2 separate regions of the Homo sapiens genome follow, and region 1 is linked to region 2. Evidence: fine-mapped expression QTL. Tissue or cell type: testis. Region 2 holds a variant in brackets; the other region holds the start of a gene. All regions are shown on one strand. Distances are between the middles of the regions.

What was found. PIP is the estimated chance that this variant, and not a neighbour inherited with it, causes the effect.
Region 1: LINC02871 starts here. The variant in region 2 is fine-mapped to the expression of LINC02871 in testis (GTEx, PIP 0.98).

The regions. Positions count from the first base shown.
Region 1 is chr20:11,025,339-11,027,945 of GRCh38, forward strand. LINC02871 (long intergenic non-protein coding RNA 2871) reads left to right here and starts at 1,206. Exons shown (of 4, transcript NR_146878.1): 1 at 1,206-1,236; 2 at 2,413-2,568.
Region 2 is chr20:11,581,511-11,584,274 of GRCh38, forward strand. No RefSeq gene overlaps it. Among named protein-coding and RNA genes, the nearest start is that of LINC00687, 290 kb to the right of the region's middle. The variant C/T (reference allele first, on the strand shown) is at 1,574.

The DNA of each region.
Region 1 (2,607 bases), 560 kb before region 2:
CTCTGGTTGTGAAAGGCCACATGTTCCTGCAGGAGTTGAATTTAGGCTACCAGCAACTCTGTCCAGCACAAAGCTCAAAAGGCAGGACTACCACCTCTTACTTTGTTCTCTCTTCTTTCACTTACTTTCTGTTTTAATATTAACATCTACTTTGTTATGTGATTTTTTTTTGAGTAATTAAAATATTATCTATCTATCTTCTACCCAATATTTTTGTGTATGTATGGGGGGGTGGTGTTTTTGTGTGCTTCCTTTTATGTTTTGACAAAAAATAAATAGTACATATAATTCTTAGGTTCTGTGTCATGTATCTACCATTATGTAATGCTATGAAACGACCACAAATTATCAGCTGCATGCAACAATAAGCACTTACTACTCACAGTCCAGGGATGGTTGGTTGGAAATTTCTGCTGCTTTTGGCTAGGATCGTCTGATGGTCTGGGAGCTGAGTGGCTCTTGGCTGATCTAGGCTGGCCTCAGCTAGGATAACAAGGACATTCAACTTCTAGTCAGGTAGATTAGGAATTTCCTCATGGGATTGCAGAGACCAAAAAAAGGCAGAAGCACATTTTCAGTTCTCTGATACTCCTGCTAATATTGTTTGGGTTAAAATAAGTTGCATATCTGTGCTCAGAGTCAGGGGGTTGGAAGGTTATGCTGCTCATGTTGAGACAGCACTGAAAAGTGACATGGAAAAGAGCAAGGATATGTGTAGGTGTGTGAAGAATTGGAGCCATGTTTTGCAACCATTCGACCACAAGCGTTTAAAAAATATATATTCTATTACTCCATAAGAAAAAAAGAGGACGAGGGAGAGAAACATGAGGAGGATAGAAGTAACTGGTGAGAAATGAAGAAAATTAGGATTACATGATATTAATAATTGTTGAAGCCACCTAATGGGCACATTGAAATTTCACTATCCTGTGCTCTATACTTTCATGTGTTTGAAAATTTTTCACTATATAACAATAAAATGATATATAGTCTATGTTTGTTGGCTATAAAAGTCTTTATTCAGATATATTATGTCAAAGCTGTTATTTATTCAAATCTTTTATATTTCTAGTTATATTTTTCTACTTTTTAAAAAAATTTTTTAGGTAATTGTACTAAACTCTTCCACCATAATTGTGATCTCATCTTGGGATTTGCCAAAAAACATTTATAGCATGTCTGAGAAGTCCAGAGGAAGTATATATCTCCTCTTTGCTCCAACCTTCTTGTAGCAGGGTATGTGTTGAATCAGTCTGTCCTGAAATGTGTGAGTCTTTTAAAAAACTGAATACTATTGGTCATTTTTGTTTGGAGATTTCTAAGGCAAGAAGTTTGTCTAAGTACCCTAAACCAGCTGGGCACTGGGGGCCAGTGACAGGACTAGGAAAGAGATACTCATGTCCATTTCAAAGACTTTTGCCCTATGGAAGAGGCTTCTGTTAGCTTCTGTGACCTCTGGTGAGTTGATGCTGGCATTAGCCACTGGGCTGTCTTGCTGATAAATTGGCTAAATCATTAGACATATTCCCAGAAGGGAGTATATGGTGAATGGCTCATATGGGCCCCCGGGAAGGTGGCTGCACCTCTGAGGGTCCTTTGTGCTAAGGGAGCAGAAAAGGACCTCGCTCATGTGCTGGATAAACATATTTGTCACTGTTTTCATTATTTCCCTATGTATAGTTTTAAATTTTTCATTACAAAGTCATTTATTTAAAATAGTATGTATGCACTGGCAACCAATAATTTTCCCTTGGACACAGTCCTGTGGCAAGGATCCAATGTGATAACATATCAAGTTAACAGAATATTTTCAAAATACTCAAATTTGGTCTCATAAATTACTGAAAATATTCATATTCAGTATCATTGTTGTTGAATTAGATGTAGAAATAGGTGACAGTGGCCTTTTCCTATGCCCTGAAACCTCCTTTTGCCTTATTGCCACCTTTTGATGCGATGCTGAACAGGTTGACCTCTGAATCTTGAAGAGCCCTTTGTTTTCCCTCCTGATATCATGTTGGAATTTGGAAGAACAGTGGGTCTTTTGGTTCACTGCATTCCACTGGGACCCTTCCAACTCCAGCTCATTAGAAACACCCCCGAGCCTGAGGACTAACTATGATGTCATATGTCATAGCAATGAAGTAATTATGGCCGGCCAAGGCAAAGAACAATTTTATTTTTGCTGCTTTGAGAATTTTCTCATATTGCTTCAAATGTAACTCCCACCTTTCAAGTAAAAATTATTATAAGTAGATTCCCAGGGTCAAAAGAACAAGTGGAAACTTGTTGGATGGGGTCAACCTGGAAACTGCTGAGATATTTGTATACATATTCCCTTTATCTTGCTTTGGCTCAGTTTTTTTTTGTTCCTTTCAGGTGTGCCTAATATTATACTCTGTGTTTTGAAAGGTTTGAGGGAGAAGGCTGCAAGGAGTCCTGTGGGAGGCCCTGGGGTCTTATTAGTTGAAGGAAACAAATCATCATACCTTTAATACTGGCTCCAATTTGCCCCTTTCATGAGTAGTCTTGGAGAGATAATTGCTAATCTGGAATGGACATACTTCTGTAAGTTTATATCAAATACATTTTTTCCATTAAATAATA
Region 2 (2,764 bases):
TAAGGTTGAGTCCAGAGGAAAGAGGAAATGGTTTTGGGGAGCACATAGCACTTCTGTGTCACAACTTGTGTCTGGATGCATTTTAGCCGTTCCTGGGGAAAGAAAGAAACAAACAAAAAAATAAACAACAACATAAAACCTGCTTTTAAAGAATATTTATTCTATGGAAAGTTATTAAAAACTATGTCACAACCTTCTTAATTAGCTCTTTTCTAGTTAATTTGATATTTTAAAAAATTATTTTCAGTTCATTTACATCTATAGAAGAGTTACAGAAATAGCACAGAGAGTTATTGTACATCCTGTACCCAGCTTCCTCTAATGTTTAAATCTTACATAACCATAGTACACATAGAAAAAAACTAAGAAATTAACATCGGCACAATGTTATTATAGATTTCACCACATATTTTTGACTTACGTCTTTTCTTCTGTTCCAGGTATTTCTATCTACTTTTAACTCACACATACACACACACACACATGAACACATCCCTAAGGCTTTATTTCTTCTTTGAGTTTCCTAATTTCTAGAGTAAAAGACATTTTTCCATTCTCATAAGTAATCATTATTCAAATATCATTGGTTTTCCAAAAGTGAAATCTTACATAGACTATAACCATTGCCAGGAGTGTGGCAGTCATCAGAGGAAAGATGCTAACACATGGTAATAATGATAAGAATAACGACATAATTGAGGTCTACTGAGCTGTTACTACATCTGGCAAGTGCTAGTATGACTCACTTAATTCTTGAAGAAGTTGTATGAGAAACAAATTATTTTAACCCTCTTTTCCTGGTAAGGAAACTGAGGCTCCAAGAAGTTACACAATTCATCGGTCCCACAGCTAGTGAGGAAAGAGCCTAGGTTCACTTCAGTCCATTTTAACCACAAAACTTCAAGGGAAAACTGAAACTAATAAGGACAAAAGCATATCCAAGGCATTTCTGGATGGGGTTATATCCAAGCATTCACAAGAAGTATCCATTAGAAGGAGCATTTAGAGGTAGGTTTTTGAGGACAAAAAGAACAAAAAATGAGCCTAATGATTTAACTTTTTGCCTTTATTCCTAGTAGTTCAGCATTTACCTAGGACAACAATCCTTCTTCCCTCTCAGTTGTCAGGGGTCACATAGGAATTAAACTGGTTGCAAGAGCAAGAGCTGAGGTTCTGAGCCTTGGTACTTTCTGAACTTAGCATTTCCGACCTTGAGTCATGTTTGCCACCTGTGGCCCTTTCTGATCTTTGCAAATCCGATTTCTCTAGTCAGCCTAGTTTTGAGACCTAATTACTTGGCATTTCACCTCTGACGGTCTCTGCGCAGGCCTGAATGTTAAGCCCTGTGATTCTAGCAATAAGATGCCCCTGTGTCTGCCAGTGAGTCCAGGCTCCTTGCATGAGTACCATCTGAGATCCATCTTAGAAAAAATATATTCCATTAGTGCAATCATTCCCAAAATGTGAGCCTTGGGCTACCAACATCAGCATCACCTGGGAACTTGTCACAAATGCAGATCCTCAGGGTCTTCATGCCAGCCCTACTGAATCAGAAATTCTAGGCAACAGGGAA[C/T]ATCAATCTGTGTTTTAACAAACCCACTATGATTTTGATGGATGCTAAAATTTGAAATTCCTGAATTAGTATCTGTGTCTCCTCATTTGCTATGATGCCCATTGGTACAATGGATTAAGACAGGGAGGACTTAGTGTCTGACAGCTCAGCAACTTAGCTGGTTGCATGCCCCTGGGTCCTTGCTCAGCCTCTGTGCTTTTCCATTTTCTCATTTTTAAAAATACACCAAAGAGCTATAATCGAGCTCTCGTTTTTCTGTGTTTGCTGATGAGTAACTAATGGAGGGTTGTGCTATCCCATGTTAATCTTAACTGCCTGACTAATGCTTAGCAATGGCTTTTGTACAAAGGTTGTCCTTGTGATTTCTGAACCTCTTCTCCTGCTTGGATTTAAGCAGCAATATCCCATCACATTTGTATTACATAAATCATTGGGGCATGGGTTGAATGTTATATACTCATAACTATGTGTAATTAAACTTAATATGGATTTGACCATTAGTTAAACTCTCACGCTTTGAGATTAGCTATAATTGAGGAAGGCATGACCTTTATTCTAACAGGGTAGAACTTTCTCTTGGAGCATTTAAGGTTAAGGTATGAGAGGACTTTGCTGTTATACAAAAATATTCCACATAGGAAGTTCAAGTAAAATACTAAACCTTTCTAGGCCAGAGTTCTTTAAGAAATTAATCCAGATAAAACCATGAGATAGAGATAATTGCCACAGAAATTAGCAATCCTGCCAAAAGAACTGACCATGCATAGGCTGATCTTTTAGGAACACGGAAGGGACCTTAAAAATGTCACATGGAAACCACTCTTTGGGAGTTGTTTTTTGGATCAGAACAGAAATTAAGAAGCTAGATAGAAAAAATTCATGAAGATGAGTGTCTTAGTTTGAATTCCCCAGAAGCAGATTCTGAGTAAGAATTTTAGTGCAAGTGCTTTATTTGGGATGTGATCCCAGACAATACTAGCAGGAGGGGAGCAGAAATTGAGACAGGACAGAGAATGAAGGCAACACAGTGTGTATTATCAAGCAAGTTATCACTATCAGCAATTGAAGTGTAGGGTCAGAGTTTCTGAATACAAGTCTAGGATAGGCTCTGTGGCTTATCAACTCAGCCCTTGAAGAATTATACCACTTCTTTACGCATTACATCCTTCTTCAAAGAAATGAAGATAAAAA